2 separate regions of the Homo sapiens genome follow, and region 2 is linked to region 1. Evidence: fine-mapped expression QTL. Tissue or cell type: whole blood. Region 1 holds a variant in brackets; the other region holds the start of a gene. All regions are shown on one strand. Distances are between the middles of the regions. Region 1 overlaps ATP11A (ATPase phospholipid transporting 11A). Region 2 holds the start of ATP11A (ATPase phospholipid transporting 11A).

Region 1 (8,796 bases):
TTATTGTTGGTTCTTTGGGATTTTCTGCATGGACAATCATATCACTTGTGAACAAAGATAGTCTTATTCCTTCCTTCCCAATCTGTAGGACTTTTATTCCCATTTCTACTCTTACTGTATTAGCTAGGATTTCCAGTACAATGCTGCATAAGAACAGTGATAAGGGATTTCTTGCCTTTTTTCCAATCTTAGGGTGAAATCATCTCGTTTTTCACCATTAAGTATGACGTCAGCTGTAGGCCTTTTATTCCCATTTCTACTCTTACTGTATTAGCTAGGATTTCCAGTACAATGCTGAATAAGAACAGTGATAAGGGATTTCTTGCCTTTTTTCCAATCTTAGGGTGAAATCATCTCGTTTTTCACCATTAAGTATGACGTCAGCTGTAGGCCTTTTATTCCCATTTCTACTCTTACTGTATTAGCTAGGATTTCCAGTACAATGCTGAATAAGAACAGTGATAAGGGATTTCTTGCCTTTTTTCCAATCTTAGGGTGAAACCATCTCGTTTTTCACCATTAAGTATGACGTCAGCTGTAGGGCTTTTCGGAGATGCTCTTTATGAAGCTCAGGAAATTCCCCTCTGTTTTTAGTTTGCTGCAGTACATGAGTGGGTAGTGAATTTTGTCAAATTCTTTTTCTGCACCTATTGATATAATCATGTAAGTTTTCTTTTTTAGCCTGTAAATATGGGTTATATTAGTCGATTTTCAAATGTTGGATCAGCCTTGCATACCTAGGATAAACCCACTTGGTCATGGTGTATAATTCTTTTTATACATTGTTGAATTGGACTTGCTAATATTTTATTGAGAATCGTTGCTTCTATGTTCATGAGAAATACTGGTGTGTGATATCGTCTTTCTGGTAATATCTTTTTCTGGTTTTGGTTTTAGGGTAATGCTGGCCTCATAGAACGAATTAGAAAATGTTCCTTCCGCTTCTATTACCTGGAAGAGATTGTAGAGAATTGATTTTTTTTTTTTTCCTTAAATGTTTGGTAGAATTCACCAGTGAAAACATCTGAGTCTTGTGCTTTCCGTTTTGGAAGAGTATTAATTACGGATTCCATTTCTTTTAATTGATGTAGGCCCACCCAGATTATATTTCTCCTTGTTTGAGTTTTGGTAGATAGCGTTTTTCAAGAAACTGGCCAATGTTATCTAAGTTACCAAGTTTATGGGTGTAGGGCTGTTCATGATATTCCTTTTAATCTTTTTATTAGCCATGTTACCAGTAGTGATGCCCCTCCTTTATTTCTGATGTTTGGAATTTGTGTCTCTTTTCTTTTCCTCTTGTTTAGCCTGGCTAAAGTTTTATTGATTTTATTGATTTTTTTTTTTCAAAGAACCAGCTTTTGATGTTTAAAATTTTCTCTGATTTCCTGTTTTCAATTTCATTAATTTCTGTTCTAATGTTGATTATTAATTTTTTGTTAAGTTTCCTAATGTTGAAGCTTGTAGATTTTGGATCTTTCTTCTTTTCTAATCTATGTAGTCAATACTATAAATTTCCCTCTAAGCACTGCTTTTCCTGCATCCCACAAGATTTGATAAGTTATATTTTTTGTTTAGCTTAAAATATTTTTATGCCTCTTGAGACTTCTTTGGTTCATGTGTTATTTAGTAGTGTTTTGTTTAATCTCCAAATATTTTGGGATTTTCCAGTTAACTTTGTTATTTATTTATTTCTAGTTTAATTCTACTGTGGTCTGAAAGAGTACTTGGTATGATTTCTATTCTTTGAAAAGGTGCTAAGGTGTATTTTATGGCCCAGAATGTGATCTGTCATGGCAAATGTTCCATGTGAACTTGAGAAGAATGTGTGGTCTGCTATTGTTGAATGAAGTATTTTATAAATTGTGAGGCCTCTGAGCCCAAGCTAAGCCTGTGACCTGCACATATACACCCAGATGGCCTGGAGCAACTGAAGAACCACAAAAGATGACATTCCACCTTTGTGATTTGTTCCTGCCTCACCCCAACTAATCAATCAACCTTGTGACATTCCCCCCTGGACAATGAGTCTCATGACCTCCCCACCCTGCACCTTGTGACCCCCGCCCCTGCCCACAAGGGATAACCACCTTTAACTGTAATTTTCCACTACATACCCAAATCCTATAGAACTGCCCCACCTCCATCTCCCTTTGCTGACTCCTTTCTCGGACTCAGCCCACTTGCATCCAAGTGAATAAACAGCCTTGTTGCTCACACAAAGCCTATTGGTGGACTCTCTTCACATGGACGCGTGAGACATAAAGGTCCATTAGATCCAAGGGACTGATGGTGCTGTTCAGTTCAACCGTGTCCTTACTGATTTTCTGCCTGTGGACAGAGGTCATGAAGTGTCCAAATATAACAGTGGATTTTCTTTCTCTTTCCAGTTCTATCCGTTTTTGCCTCACATATTTTGACCCTCTGTTGTTACAGAGACTTTGAGAATTGTTATGTTGTCTTGGAGAACTGACCTCTTTGTTGTTTGGCAATGCCCCTCTTTATCCCTGGTAACTTCTCTTGTTCTGAAGTCTGCTTTGTCTGAAATTAATATAGCTAATCTTGTGTCCCTTTGAGTAGTAGCAGCATGGTACATCTTCCTCTATCTCTTAAACCCGTGTTTTTATATTTAAAGTGCCTTTCCTGCACACAACATATGGTTAGGTCTTGTTTTTTCTATTCTGACAGTTTCTGTATTTGGTTTATTTAGACAATTCACACTTAAAGTGATTATTAATATAGCTGGATTAATATTTACCATATTTGTAACTGACTTTTATTCCTTTCTTCATAGTCTTTGTTTCTTTTGTGACTTATACTCTTTTCCTGCCATCTTGGGTTTTAATTAAGCATTTGATGTGACTATTTTCTCTCCTGTCTTAGAATATCAACTATACTTATTTTTTAAAAAAATTACTTAGTGGTTGCACTAGAGGCCACAATATACGCCCACTCTCACATAACCCGCACTGTGTGTGTGGCGCAGATTCCTCGCAACAGCATGCCCAGTTCCTTCTTGCCCCCCAGGGCACTGCTGTCATACATTTCATTCACCCCTGAGCAATCACCACTGAGTAAATGCTATTATCATTCTGAATAAAGTACTCTCTGTTAGACCAATTAAGAACACGAAAAGCAAGCTGGGTGCTGTGCCCTGTAATCCTAGCACTTCAGGAGGCTGAGGCAGTGGATCCCTTGAGCCCAGAAGTTCTAAACCCGTCTGGGCAACATGGTGAGATCACGTCTCTAAAAGAAATAAAAAACAACAAAAAAGCAAAATATTTAATTTTACTACCTTCACTTATTCCTTCTTGCTATGGTTTGAATGTGTCCCCTCCAAAATTCAGGTGTTGCCAATGTGACAACTAGTCACGGTCCCAGGAGGCGGGGCCTTCAAGAGTTCTGATTCCGCCATGCGGGCTCCTCCCTCATGAATGGGATTAGGTGCCTGTATAAAAGGGCTCGGCAGAGGGAGTTTGCCCCTTTGCCCTTTTGCCTTCTGCCACATAAGGACACAGCCTTCCCCCACTCCAGAGGATGCAGTGCTCAAGGAGCCATCTTGGAAGCAGAGATGGGGCCCTCACCAGACACCAAACCTGCCAGTGTCTTGATCTTGGACTTCCCAGACTCTAGAACTGTGGGGAAATCAATGTCTCTTCTCTATAAATTACCCAGTCTGTGGTATTCTGTTGTAACAGCACAAAAACTCACACTTTAGTGCTGTGTTCTTCTTTCCTAAGTAGACCTGAATTTCTGACCTATATAATTTTCCTTCTTTCTGAAGAACTTTTAACATTTCTTGCAAGGGAGGTCTACTGGCAATGAATTCGCTCAATTTTTGTTTGCCTGAAAAAGTCTTTATTTCTCCTTCACGAATGAAGGATAATTTTATGAGATACAGAATTCTGGGTTGCTGGCTTTTTCTTTCAACACTTTAAATATTTTACATTATTCTTTTCTTCCTTAGATGGTTTCTGGAAGAAAGTTTGATATAATTCTTACCCTTGTTTCTCAGCAGGTAAAATGTTCTTTTCCTGTGGCTTCTTTCAAGATTTTTTCTGAGTCTAATTTTCTGCAATTTAAATGTGATATGTCTAGGTGTACCCTTTTTAAAAAATTTATTCTGCTTTTGTATTTATCTCTGAGCTTCCTGGATCGGTAGTTTGGCATCTGCCATTAATTTTGGAAATAGCCACTTTTACTGGAGATATTTCTTCTCTCTTCTTTTGTTTTTTTCATTATGCATATATGGTTTACCTTTTTTTTTTTTTTTTTTTTTGAGATGGAGTTTTCACTCTGGCTGCCCAGGGTGGAGTGCAGTGGTGCTATCTTGGCTCACTGCAACCTCTGCCTCCCAGCTTCAAGGGATTCTTGTGCCTCAGCCTCCCAAGTAGCTGGGATTACAGGCACCTGCCACCACACCTGGCTAATTTTTTTAAAAAAAA[T/A]TTTTATTTTTTGTATTTTCAGTACAGACGGGGTTTCACCATGTTGGCCAGTCTTGTCTCAAACTCCTGACCTCAGGTGATCTGCCCACCTTAGCCTCCCAAAGCGCCAGGATTACAGGCGTGACCACCGTGCCTGGCCTGCTTCACCTATTGTAGTTGTCCACAGTTCTGTTCTGTTTCTTCACTCTTTTTTCCTCTTTGCTCTTCAGTTTGGAAAGTTTCTATGGACATGTCTCAAGGTCACGGGTCCTTTGCACACCACGTCAGTCTCTGAGCAGCCTGTATTACAAATCCCCGATGTGGCTAGGGCAGGTGTATGATTCTATGGGCATGTCTCAAGGTCACGGGTCCTTTGACACCGCGTCAATCTCCGTACAGTCTGTATTATAAATCCCCAAAGTAGTTAGGACAGGTGTATGAGTTTCTTATGCTGCTATAACAAATTCCACTTTGTGACTTAAAACAATGCAAATTTATTACCTTACTGTTCTGGAGGTCAGAAGTTTGCAATGGGATTCACTGGGTTAAAATTAAAGTATCAGCAGGGCTGGTTCCTTCCTGGAGGCTCCAGGGAGAAACTTTTCTTGCCTTTTCTTGCTTCCTGCAGAGGCTGCCTACATCCTTTGGTCCCCTTCAACCTCTGAAGCCAGTCGTAGCTCGGACAGTCTGTTCTGCCTCCCTCTTCCACTTACAAGTGCCTCTGTGGTTACTTTTGGCCACATGAATAGTTCTATAATCACCTCCCTATTTTAATGTCAGCTGTTTGGCAATCTTGATTCCCTGGCCACAGACAGTGTCATAGTCAGAGGTTCTGGGGATCAGGATGTGGACATCTGTGGGAGGCCATCCTTCTGCCTGCCACACTAGGTTTTCTTCATGGGAATGCAACCAAATTGAGAACCAAAAGGCAAGAGCTCTGGATGGAAAAGTAGCCATACAAACTGAGACAGAGTAGAGAACACATGGCTAGCTCTTCATTTCTTTTGTTTCTCATTCAGAAAAAAAGCAAACAAAAACACCAGATTGCCAATAAAAGTATAGGCACTTTCTTCCTTTACAAAAACCACAATCTTAATTCACAATTTGCTAACCCCACCTCAAGATAATTTAGGTACTCTATCGAAATTCTGGAAATATTTACTCTTTAGCATACTATGAAACACATAGACTTCAGAGTCAGTCCCCATATTCGATCCTGACCCTGCCATTTAAAAACCATGTAAACTTCAGCAAATTATTTAATGATTCTGAGTTCTAGTTTTCTTGTGTATACAACTTGGCAAACATTACACATGTGATCGACCTTTTTAAATATTTGAGAAAGATATATTTTCTCTCAAATGGGCCACAATGAAAAAGTCAGTTACTCTCCATTAGCTTTTAAAAGGATACATTAAAGAAATACCTTAGCTCACCCATGTGAGGCCAGTCTTACTTTCCAGCATCCAAGCCAACAAATTTATTACAATTATACGTTTCCACAAATTTCTATAATACATCACTCAGTAACAAAGTCACATTAATGAAAAAAGAGTCTACTTAAAATTCCACCTTTCATTTACTGAAGTACTTTCAGATGAAAAGTACACGCTGTCCAGGATTCCTTCCAAAGGACCCTTGGAACTACAGTGAAGGTGCAGATGCAACAGGCTGGCCACAAGCTGGGAACTGTGACAGTGGAGACGAGCCACAGAGATTTACAATGCTCCTCTCTATGGTTTTGAAAGTTCCCATGTTACACGAGGAAGTTCTGGTAATATTTATGAGATAAAATATGATCTGCAATCCTTCCAAACATGCAGATCTACTTCCATCAGGCCTGGAAGGCTGTGCAAACTCATGGACTTGCCATAACTTATTTATTTATTTATTTTGAGATGAAGTCTCACTCTGTCGCCCAGGCTGGAGTGCAGTGGCGCCATCTCGGCTCACTGCAACCTCTGCCTCCCAGGTTCAAGCGATTCTCGTGCCTCAGCCTCCCGAGTAGCTGGGATTACAGGCAACCCCCCAAGATGCCCGGCTAATTTTTGTATTTTTAATAGAGACGGGATTTCACCATGTTGCCCAGGCTGATCTTGAACTCCTGACTTCAGGTGATCCACCTGCCTCAGCCTCCCAAAGTGCTGGAATTACAGGCGTGAGCCACCGCACCTGGCAGGGCCTTGCCATATTTGAATGTTACTGTACAGCTTTGGAATTTGAAACCACCTGCATGATTGCTTTATTCTTTTTTTCTTTTCTTTTCTTGAGACAGGGTCTTACTCTGTCTGTCACCCAGGCTGGAGTGCGTTGGCACAATCTCGGCTCACTGCAACCTCTGCCTCCCGGGTTCAAGCGATTTTCCTGCCTCAACCTCCCGAGTAGCTAGAAATACAGGCGCCCGCCACCACACGCAGTTAATTTTTTATTTTTTGGTAGAGACAGGATTTCACCATGTTGGCCAGGCTTGTCTAGAACTCCTGACCTCGTGATCCGCCCGCTTCGGCCTCCCAAAGTTCTGGGATTACAGGTGTGAGCCACTGCGCCTGGCCTCAATTGCTTTATTCTAATCAGGCACTGAGGGCTGCAGCCAAGCCCCATGATGCTGTGTAATCTCTATGTTTCACAGAGTAAGTTATTACTGCTGACCACTACTATTGTCAAAAGGAGGGTTATTAATTCCTGGTGATGTCTAACAAGAAAAGTGAAATCCCAGGGAACTCATTTAAAGGGTCGTGACTGCACTGACACAGCAGTACCATCGGGATACAATCAACTGAAATGAGCATTTTATTCCACACGTTAGAGTGGGAAGGCTGACAATGGTGGACAGTTATCCTTCGCTCATCGTTGTTGAATTGTAAAAATGTAAGTATTTGCCTGGGGACACAATGTAATGTAACACTGGGCCCTTCGACTGTGATACAATCAGTAGACGTCCTCAATCCTAGGAGCTCCTGGCGTGAAAGCCACAGCATAGAACCAAGTGGTTTTCCTCCTACAGGAAATCTGGGAAAACCGAGTGGTGCTTGGCACCTCTCTTCACCTCCAAAGACACCATGTGTTTTGCTGAATGACACGGGACAGTCATTCTTTTCGTTTCTCACTTGTACGACAGACGCCATAGCCAGAGTCCACAGCTGCCCTGGCTCTGATTTTGGCCCTGAGCTGGAACGCCTCACTAGTGTCTGAGCCTCAGGTTTCCGCTGCCTCCTGCCCCTTGGGGTAGCCAGTCTCTGTTTTGTGTTACTTGCCAGCAGTGTGGTGTGCAGACAGGGAAGAGCATGGCCTCACCTGGCCTGCCTCTGGCCTCTGGCTGCGAGACGAACCCGGGCACTGTCCCCTGCCAGCAGCCCAGGCGCCCGCAGGAGCACCTACAAGCTGTCTGAAGCCTCAACTAGTGTTCACCTGAACACAGCTCCAGCACCACAGGGCCCACCTGACAGTCCTGAAAAAGGCGGGGACGCCGGACACCCATCTGCTTGGGACAAGCAGCCACTCGCATGGAACTGAGGTCACTCTTTTGTTTATGACCGGGAGGCAGGGATGCAAAACACAGAAAATTATGCCAGGATGGTGGATTGCTGATGCCGGAAATTCGTGAGCACCCAGAGGGGCTGTTAAGAAACGTGCCCCTGGATGGGCGCGGCGACTCACGTCTGTAAACCCAGCACTTTGGGAGGCCGAGGCGGGTGAATCACCTGAGGTCAGGAGTACAAGACCAGCCTGGCCAACAATGGCAAAACCCCATCTTTGCTAAAAACATAAAAATTAACTAGGTGTGGTGGTGGGCACCTGTAGTTCCAGCTACTTGGGAGGCTGAGGCAGGAGAATCACTTAAACCCGGGCGGTGGAGGTTGCAGTGAGCCAGGATCGCACCATTGCACTCCAGCCTGGGCACAGAGAGAGACTCTGTCTCAAAAATGAAAAGAAAGGGCCCCTGGCTCTGCGGAAGGAAGTCCAAGCCCAGTGCCAGACTACAGGGGCTCTATCCTCTTCTGTGGCCTCAGGCACATGACTGAGCTCTAAGCCTCAGCTTCCTCATGGATACATTGGTAATAATCAGTATTGGTGGGCTCACAGGGTTGTTTTAGAGATTACATGATATAATAAACATGGAAATCATTTATACAAATAGAAGTCATGAAAACACTGGCTATACCTACGAATTGCAGAGGGAATTTTTTCTCCCCAATTACCAGAAGGATTCAACTTTCTTGAAGGCATGGAGGGACAGTATAGTCTAAGCCAACATTTAATTCTGTAGCCTCCTGTGGGCAAAGCTGGGAACCATGTGAATTCTGTGCCCCAAAGTACAAATCTGGAAAAGGAGGCATGCAGTGATCCATCCCTTTGTGGAGTTCAGGATTCCCCA
Region 2 (8,796 bases), 110 kb after region 1:
CTCTGAAGAAAAATCAAATGCCCTACATAGAGGCATGGAAGGGAAGAGGGAGGGAAGCATCCTGCCCACGCCGGGATGCTCAGCCTTACAGAGATCAAGGGCTGTTTTACCACAGCGTGTAAAGCTTTCTGAATCCTACCTGAGCTCCACACCATGCTCAGTGTCAGGGTGCCCGGTTTACCTCTCCTGTGACCCACGACGCCAGCAGGCCGGGACCCACAGGTAGCTGAGCAGCAGCACTGGCAGCCCATAGGTTTGCTCTCTCCCCAGCCAACCCTACCCAGGGACTCAGCTATGTTAACAGCCAGGCATGACAAACGGACTGAGAGCTTCCCCATTCTTGGCTCTCCACCCAGATTACCTCATTCAACCCTCACAATAGCTATGAAATGAGTACTGCTCTTACCCTCAGAGGAGAAAACTGAGGCAGAAGGAATTAAGCCACTTGCCCAAGGCCACATGGCTAAGAAGGGCAGGGAGGCTCCCACTCAGCATTCAGGCCACTGCCCAGAGAGTATCTAAGAAAAGTATCTAAGCTACCCGCTGAGGCTGCCCTGGTTCCTCTCGGAACTTAAACTACCTGAATCGGTGTTGCTCACCTTACAGCTCTGAAGAGGAAATGGAACTCGCTCTCCATCCATGCTGTTAAAAATACTCTTATTTATTTTGAGACGAGTTTCGCTCTTGTTGCCCAGGCTGGAGTGCAATGGTGCGATCTCAGCTCACTGCAACCTCCGCCTTCTGTGCTCAAGCAATTCTCCTGCCTCAGCCTTCTGAGTAGCTGGGATTACAGGCACCCGCCACCATGCCCGGCTAATTTTTGTATTTTTAGTAGAGACAGGGTTTCACCATGTTGGCCAGGTTGGTCTTGAACTCCTGATGTCAGGCGATCCACCCACCTCGGCCTCCCAAAGTGCTGGGATTACAGGCATGAGCCACCGCGCCTGGCCTAGAAGTGCTTTTAAAGTGTTACGTCATGGAGGTCAAACTACCTCATGGCACATGCACTACCCCATGGCTCATATGCTACCCCATAGCACATACACTACTCCACAACACATACGCCAGTCCACGGCACACACGCTACCCCATGGCTCCCACAGCACATACACCACCCCACGGCACACACACTCTCCACCCCGTCCCCTCTCCCCGTACCCACAGCTCATACATCACCCCAGAGAGCATACACCACCTCACGCCCCCGACAGCACATACATCACCCTAGGGAGCATACACTACCCCACAGCACATACACTACCCCACGGCACACACGCTTTTCCCCACGCCCCCCAGAGCACATACATCACCCCAGGGAGCATACACTACCCCATAAGCACAAGCACTCCTCATGGTATACAAACACGGCACCATTTACAAATACAAAGTATCTCTGCATGGCTCCGGTCCATCCAAACACCCAAACCACCAGTAACACACAGTGTGGAGTACCTGGCTACCCTGGCCTAACCTTCATCTGTTCTCTCACTCATTTGCCTCTGCTATCTCTCCAGGGTTAATCCACAATAAAATGCCTACAGCAATGTTTTCCAAGGACTTCTTTATCTTTTAGCCACCCTCACACATCAGAAGGAGCTGGAAAGCTTTCTTTGTCCCAGGAATTCTGACTATGTGAACACCAAGAAGGAACAGGGTCTATTTATCTATCCTTTTTAATAAAGTAAGTCACATAAGGAAACCATGAGGAAATATGAGTATTCAATCCCAGACTCTTTTTTCTGTAGCAAAAGGAAATATAATTTAGTCCTACATAGTGGACGATAACGCAATTACAAGAAAACAGATCATGACTGTTTCTGGAAAAAGTCAAATTAGTTTAATACCATAGACATGAACTTAAAATGATAGAGATGAATGGCTCTGTGTGTAAATATGGGTGAGGTAGCCAGATGAATACACTGCAAAAAACACAGGTGGAATGAGAAAAACAGAAATAATATTATCCCACAACTCGTATTCCCGAGACGTTATCCAATAATGTATATGCTGGAAAAGTTCACTAAAGAATATTTACCGCTTAGATTAAAAGAAAATGTGATGCCATAAGCGTAATAATACAGCAAAGGGGAATTAAAAATGCAAGCTACGCAAACACTTATATAGATCTATATAACAGAAAACAGCTGAAGGCCTGGAGAAAGGGAGTCAAGCATCAAAATTGGACGTCTGTCTGTCCCCCTCCCAAGATGAAGGGGTCAGAAACCGGCTGGGAAGGGGGGATTCTCCAAAGGGTGAGCCGGGCTGGCCCATCCATCTCTCATTTCTATGGAAAGAGGCTGCACATTAGCCCCACAACGTGACCCTCCTTTTTAACACTGAGTGTTAGAAGGGAACGGAATGAACTGGGAACACCGCGGGCAAAGTGAGTGTTAGTCCCTTCCCTCTTCCATTTCGCTCGAAGGAAACAAAGCAGGAAAATAAGGTGTCTAGGGACCCACACTTCTGAGCGACACAACTGAGAACAGAAGCTTCCGCCCAATAAAGCATTTCTCTTACACTGCAGGTTACCTATAGTCACTGTGATTGGGTCTTCTATAACGTTACCACAGTGAAACACAGGTTTACCACTCACATTAGGATTTGAACTGGGGGCTCGAGCACCAGTGAGGGAGTAACACAAGGCTCCTGGAGCCAAGCCTTTCAAGATCTAGCATCGGAATCATCAGAATCACCAGGGGTGAGTTCTCTCCACTTAAGTAAGTCAGGCTGACCTTCCTAAGGCTTCCCCGAGATCAGGAAACGATGTAAGGTGCACTCAAGTCTCCTTGACTCTCCGAGGTTTTTGGTTAATAAATAAATCCGGGGGAAAGCATTGATCTGGCATCCCCCACTGAAAAGAAACCTATCTATCTTTGGCCAAGGTCTCCTATTTAAAGAAGGCTCATAAATATGAAAGGCTGCCTGAGGTAATTCCTATGCCGGGAAAGAACAAAGTTCCCATAATACTGCCCTCTCTAGTATCAAACCCGGTGCATGCGACTTCTCGAACCTGTGATTGACCAGTGACCGCCAGCCTCTATGGAACAATGAAGCCTCTTGTGCAAGACAGTGGCAGGAAACGCTGTGCTTGGGACAGTTTTCTTCCTCTCCTACACACACACACACACACACACACCCTTTTTTTTTTTTTTTTTTGATACAGAGTCTCGCTCTGTCACCCAGGTTGGAGTGCAGTGGCTCGATCTCGGCTCATTGCAACCACCGCCTCCCGGGTTCAAGCGATTCTCCTGCCTCAGCCTCCTGAGTAGCTGGGATCCCAGGCGCCTACCACCACGCCCGGCTAATTTTCGTATTTTTTAGCAGAGACGGGGTTTCACCATGTCGGTCCGGCTGGTCTCAAACTCCTGACCTCGTGATCCGCCCGCCTCGGCCTCCAAAAGTGCTGGGATTACAGGCGTGAGCCACCGCGCCCGGCCACACACCCCTTTTTACACCTAACGCCAGGGATTCCGGTTTCCCCTCCTCTGGTGTAAAACAAAATCAACTTTTCCCCTTCCGAGTCTTCCCTCCTGAGCTCTTCACTTGCTTATCACTGAAGGGGCAAATTCCAGAGGAACCCAAGAAGACCCCGGACTTCTGATCTAATTGGTTACTTTAAGGTAAAAAATAAAAAGATTCCAAACTCCGCTTCTGAATCCCCCAGGGGTGTTAAAGAACAAACACAATTGCTACCTTTTTCTGCAGAAGTGTAACGCTTCCTCCCAATCCCTTAATCTTACAGACACGGCTGCGCGGAAGCCGCATCTGAAGGTTCCTCCCCAGACCCGGGCCCCGGCGGGGTCGAAGTTGGCTCCCTCCGGGCGCCCGGTCCGCCGGGACAGCTCGAACCCCAGCCAGCCTCTCCGAGGGACCCCCAGGGCGCTGCGGGCGGGAAGGGGGCGCCAGGCGGCCGCGGCCAGGGAGCAGGTGGCCGCCCGGGGCTGGGGCCCCGCGCTGTGCCCACCTAGACCCCGTCGGAAGCCCCAGGGTGTCAACTCCGAGGCCCCTCCCCAGCATCCCGCTCGTCCCCGGGGGCGGTCCGAGTCCCAGACATCGGAGACCTCCCGGGACCCCGGGGCTGGACCGGCCACAGGGTCCGGGCTGCGGGGCCGGCCCGCGTCTGTCTGGTCCCCGGGTCCCCCAGCCCGCGCCGGGAGCACTCACGTATCTGTGCACGAGCGTCCGCACGAGGCTGCAGTCCATGGCTCCTCCGGCCGCTCCCGCTCCGCCGTTCAGCGCCCCCGCGCCCGGCTCGGCGCGCCCATGGGCTCCGGGGTACTAGTGCGGCCGCGCCCCCCGCTCCGGTCACGGCCTCGGCGCGCCGGGCGGTGCAGGGGGCGGCCGCGGCCCCTCCGCGCTCATGCCCGGCCCGGCCGGCGAATGCTGGGTCCGCGGCCCCGCGCGTCGGCAGCTGCTCCACTGGCGGCAAGGCTGCTGCTCGGGGCCGCGCGCGCGCGCTCTGGCGCCTTCTCTCTCCCCGTCGGTCCGCCCGCTCGGTTGGGCTCGGCTGGAGCACCCCGGCCGCGGCGGAGCCTGCGCTCTGCTCCTCCCGAGTCTCCTCCTCCCCTGCCCGCCGCCCTCTGGAGCCTCCGGGCCCCGCTGGCTCCTGCCCCTGCTCCGGGCGCGCACGTCACCGGCGCAAGTGAGCATGCGCCCCGCGGCCGCAGCCCCCGCCGGCCCCGCGCCCACACCCGCGCTCGCACCCGCGCGCCGGCCCTGCCCCCTCGCGCCTCCGCCCGGGCCCCAGACCCTGGGGGCAGAGGGCAGAGGGCAGAGGTCAGAGGCCGCGGGGAGGAACCCCCCTGTTGCTTCCGCCTCCCGGGGCGCAGGCGCTGGGCGCGGCGGGGAAGGGACTCGGCACTGGGGAAACCCGGAGTTTCAGCCAGGGTCCCAGGGCTTCCTTCCCGGGTTCCTGCCGGAAAACTTTTCTCCTCCGCCCGGAAGCCTCGATGGGGCAGTGAGATCGCGGGGCGAGGTGGGAGTGTGGGAGGGGGCCGCGGGCAGAGAGCGGGAGTCCGGCTGGGTGGGAGATCTCCTGAGCCGAAGCTGGGTCTCGCCCCAGCGTGGCGCCACCGACCCGCAGGCTTTTCCTGCTCTGCAGATGGAGAGACACAGGGACGCTCCTCAGGTGGCTGCCCTGGGCTGCCAGCCTGTCAGTGGGAGGGGAGGGTGCAGACAAGAGGCCCCTGTTTCCGAAACCCCTCTGTCCCCAAAGCTGCGACAGCAGAAGACACTTAGGCGGCCTGAGGGGTTGGTGAACCACAGAGGAGCTCAGCTTCGCCTGGTCTCCAGCTCCCGGTGGCGGTGGCGTGTCCTTAATGCTGCTGGCTTTGAACTGGACTGAGAACTATTTACCACACAAACACCACCATTTCAATCCCGGAGAATGCCTGTTTTCCCTAGGGTGACCTGGCCGGGGTAACAAACACTTGTTCTCTAATTCCACGGTCAGCCTTGACTTAATTGAGGTACTTGATTTCCAACTTCCTGTCTTGCTGCCACAGATAATCACTGATGAAACCAAACAGGCAACACCTTTTGGTGGCCTGTGGAGAGCGCTGCCCCGTCTGGGTCTTAGGAAGGCAATTGAATATGAATGTTCTCCCGAGTGCTTGTGGAAAAGAGATGGTGTTGGCCACTTTTTAGACGAAGAGAAATGAGTACTAGTGAACACTAATCATAGTGACTAAACAGTAAACGGCTCCCATTTGTTGTCGGCTAAAGCACTGATTCTTCATTTTCCATCCCAGCCTGTCCTGCTCTGGCCTGCCCTGTGCTCAGGAAGCTGGCGGTCCCCCTCAGTGGATCTTCACCCACAGGGACAACCTGCTGCAGACCGGGTAGGAGGGAGGCAGGGGCCTCTTCCCCTCTCCTTCCTGGCCTGGCCCCACACCCACCAGTGTTGGTTTCACTCTGTGGCTACGATTCTTCCTGGGTGCCCTTTCCATTGCACAACTCCTCTAGGCTCTACGAACAGAACTTCTCCCCGCCCCCAAGCCTCTTAGGGTGAGACATGTTGTCGGTCTGCCATTGTTGCTGGTCCCTAAATAGCAGCACCCTTTGAAGGATCCTTGAACCATGACCACACCGCAACAAAGAGTCCTTCATCAAACTCGCTTCCAAATCCCCTCCCAAGAACACCTTCAGTTTCCTGCAAGAACCCTGACTGCTGAAGCCGGATTTTGACTAAGCTTCTACCTTGTAAACCGTGACTGTGGGATTGGGGTCGAGGCGCAATCAGAGGTTGTATAAGGCACTAGATCAAGGCTGCCTGTCTGTCAGGAGTGTCTGCTTTATTCAGTAGTAAATGTGAATTGTTTTTCATTCTGTTGTGAATACTGTTGGTTGACAATGCAGCAGCCATGCCCTCTCTATCCTTGCTGGTTCAGGTATCCACTCTGTGTGGCTAAGGGTAAACTCTGTCTCTTGAGAAAATCTTGGTAACTCCATTTCTCTTTCCAACAATTGGCTTCAAACAAGCTCAAGTCAATGAGTCCCAACAGGAAGCCTGCTGGGGGTTGTCTGGCAAAGGTTTTCTCACTCCTACAGGAACATAAAGAGGAAATGCTCCTTTTTCCCTGGTGAATGTTGCATTCCCTGTCTGGATGCAATGCCTGGTGCTCCGCAGCCCTTTGCACTTATAAGAGAAGGTGGCCGGAAGAGCATCTTCACCCTGGGGTGGCCGCCTGGGAAGATGAGAAGAGCAGGAGTCCTTGGTGGCACAACCAGGCAATTCACCAAAATCCTGCTGCCCTCACCTGGAATTTCCTGCTATGAGAGACGTCTCCGTTTAAACCACATGAGCTGGATTTTCTGTTTCTAACACATGTCAGCATCTTCACGGTAAATCTAAGAAAAAAAAATCAGGGCTATTAAAAAACAAAGTCCAACTCACCCTGTGCTATGGTCTGAAGGTGTCCTCCCAAATTCACACGTGGAAACCTAATCCCAAATACCTGATACCTAATCCCAAATATTAAGAGGTGGGGGCCTTGGGAGGTGGTTAGGAATGGGATTAGTGCCCTTTAAAACTGAGGTTTTTGGGAGCCTGCTTGCCCTTTCTGCCATATGAAGATGCTTAGAAGAGGCCTTCTATGAAGCAGAGAACTTTTCTCAGATGCCAGATCTGCTGGGACCTTGATCTTGGATTTCTCAGCCTTCAGAACTGTGGGAAGCAAACTTCTGTGTGTATGAATAGCCATCTAAAGGATTTTGTTACAGCAGCCTGAGCAGACTAAGACACCCTGTGAGTCAGTTATTTTTGGCTGTGTCACGAGTGACCGCGAGTGCAGGAGCTGAAACGGCAGTGAGTGGGTTACCATTTCTCAGGACCCTGCGGAATTGGTGCGATGGTGCTTCTGCTCCACCTGTTGTTGGCTGGGATTGTCCTGCAGCTGCATTCTTCTGGGGGTCAGCTGGGGCTGGAAGCTTCCTGTGGTCTAGTCACACAGCTGGGGTCTCAGCTAGGGTGATAGAACACTGGGGGCAGGCCGGCCTTGCTGTCTCTCTCTGGCTTCTCATCATTCAGTGGTCTAGCCTGAGTTTTTTACATGGCAGCTCAGGAGGGTCAATGTGGACGCTATACAGCCTGTAAGGCCCGGGTTTGGAAGTCCAAGAATATGACTTCTACCATGTTCTACTGGTGAATATAAATTCCAAGGCCAGCCTAGATTCAAGGGATAAGAACGTAGATTTCACTCCTTGATGGGAGGATCCCATGTACAGACAGGGATCCTTATGAGGGATTATGAGAACTCCTAATCCTTATGAGGGATTATCATACAGAGAATTTATGGGGGATTATCTTTGGAAATAATCTACCATAGACTGAATAAATGATAATGTAATGTGTTGGTGCCCCTCCCAGTGCATTCAAAAGTGAAACGACTGCCAGAACTCCAGGGCCTGCAAGTTTCTTCCTTCACATCTAAGCAGAAGGAGAGACTTCACAGTGACGTGCCAGCTAAGTCACGTGCCCACTCCTGCCCAGTCTGTCACGCAAGTAGCAGAGTCCCTGAGATGATTGGCTTAGGCCCGAGGTCAGTGCACATCACCAAACTAGTAAGTGTCCAAGGGGAATGAAATTGTCTTCGCCTCAAATAACCAGGACCTACCCCTGACCCACTGCGAGCACAGCTGCTTCACAGTGCTGGAGGGATGGGATGAATGAGGAGGAGGCAACAGCTAGGAGGCCAACCCCAAGACTTGAAATTGTGGGTTTGCAAATGGGTGCTTCAGGTGACACCCTGGCCACACCCTCACCTACACACAGACTCATAAACACCTATCCTGCATTCCTCCCTCCACCTTTCTTTCCAAAGAAATCTTGGATTCATTGGCCCCTAAGTGAAAAAAACTGGGGGGAAATAAGGGAGTGGGGGCAAAAAAATGAGGTCTTCCTGCAAAGACAGTTCAGAAGAATTGTTGCACCGAGACCTGAAATGACAAACCCAAAGCCAGAGCCAACTGCTGTAGACACAGAACCAGGAAGTGTGAATTATTAATGAGTGTCATTTTGGTGCTAGAAAGAGCTATTACCTGAGGGTGGTGACTCAAGCTGGGCCTCCGAGGGCAAACAGCCTTGCTCCTCCAAGTTACTGGCCCATGCTGTGCACACGTGTCTTCAGTCGCTATCCCCACAGGTCCAGAATTACCTAGGTGACCATCTCCCCAGGGATTGGTCCTAAAGTTCTTTTTTTTTTTTTTTTTTTTCCTTTGAGACAGGGTCTTGCTCCGTCTCCCAGGCTGGAGTGCAATGGTGTGATCCAGGCTCATCACAACCTCTGACCCCCAGGT

The links.
Region 2: it holds the start of ATP11A, and the variant in region 1 is fine-mapped to the expression of ATP11A in whole blood (TOPMed, PIP above 0.99).

The regions. Positions count from the first base shown.
Region 1 is chr13:112,792,765-112,801,560 of GRCh38, reverse strand. The region is part of intron 2 of ATP11A (ATPase phospholipid transporting 11A); the gene reads right to left. LOC124903252 (a long non-coding RNA gene) reads right to left here. Exons shown (of 2, transcript XR_007063947.1): 2 at 5,874-8,796. Among named protein-coding and RNA genes, the nearest start is that of ATP11A-AS1, 42 kb to the right of the region's middle. The variant T/A (reference allele first, on the strand shown) is at 4,443.
Region 2 is chr13:112,685,824-112,694,619 of GRCh38, reverse strand. It overlaps ATP11A (ATPase phospholipid transporting 11A), which reads right to left and starts at 4,582. Exons shown (of 30, transcript NM_015205.3): 1 at 4,165-4,582. The coding sequence starts at 4,203. It overlaps LOC102725228 (a long non-coding RNA gene), which reads left to right and starts at 4,805. Exons shown (of 2, transcript NR_187633.1): 1 at 4,805-4,957; 2 at 5,751-7,851. RefSeq lists enhancers at 2,428-2,929, 5,228-5,745 and silencers at 3,790-4,029, 4,050-4,979.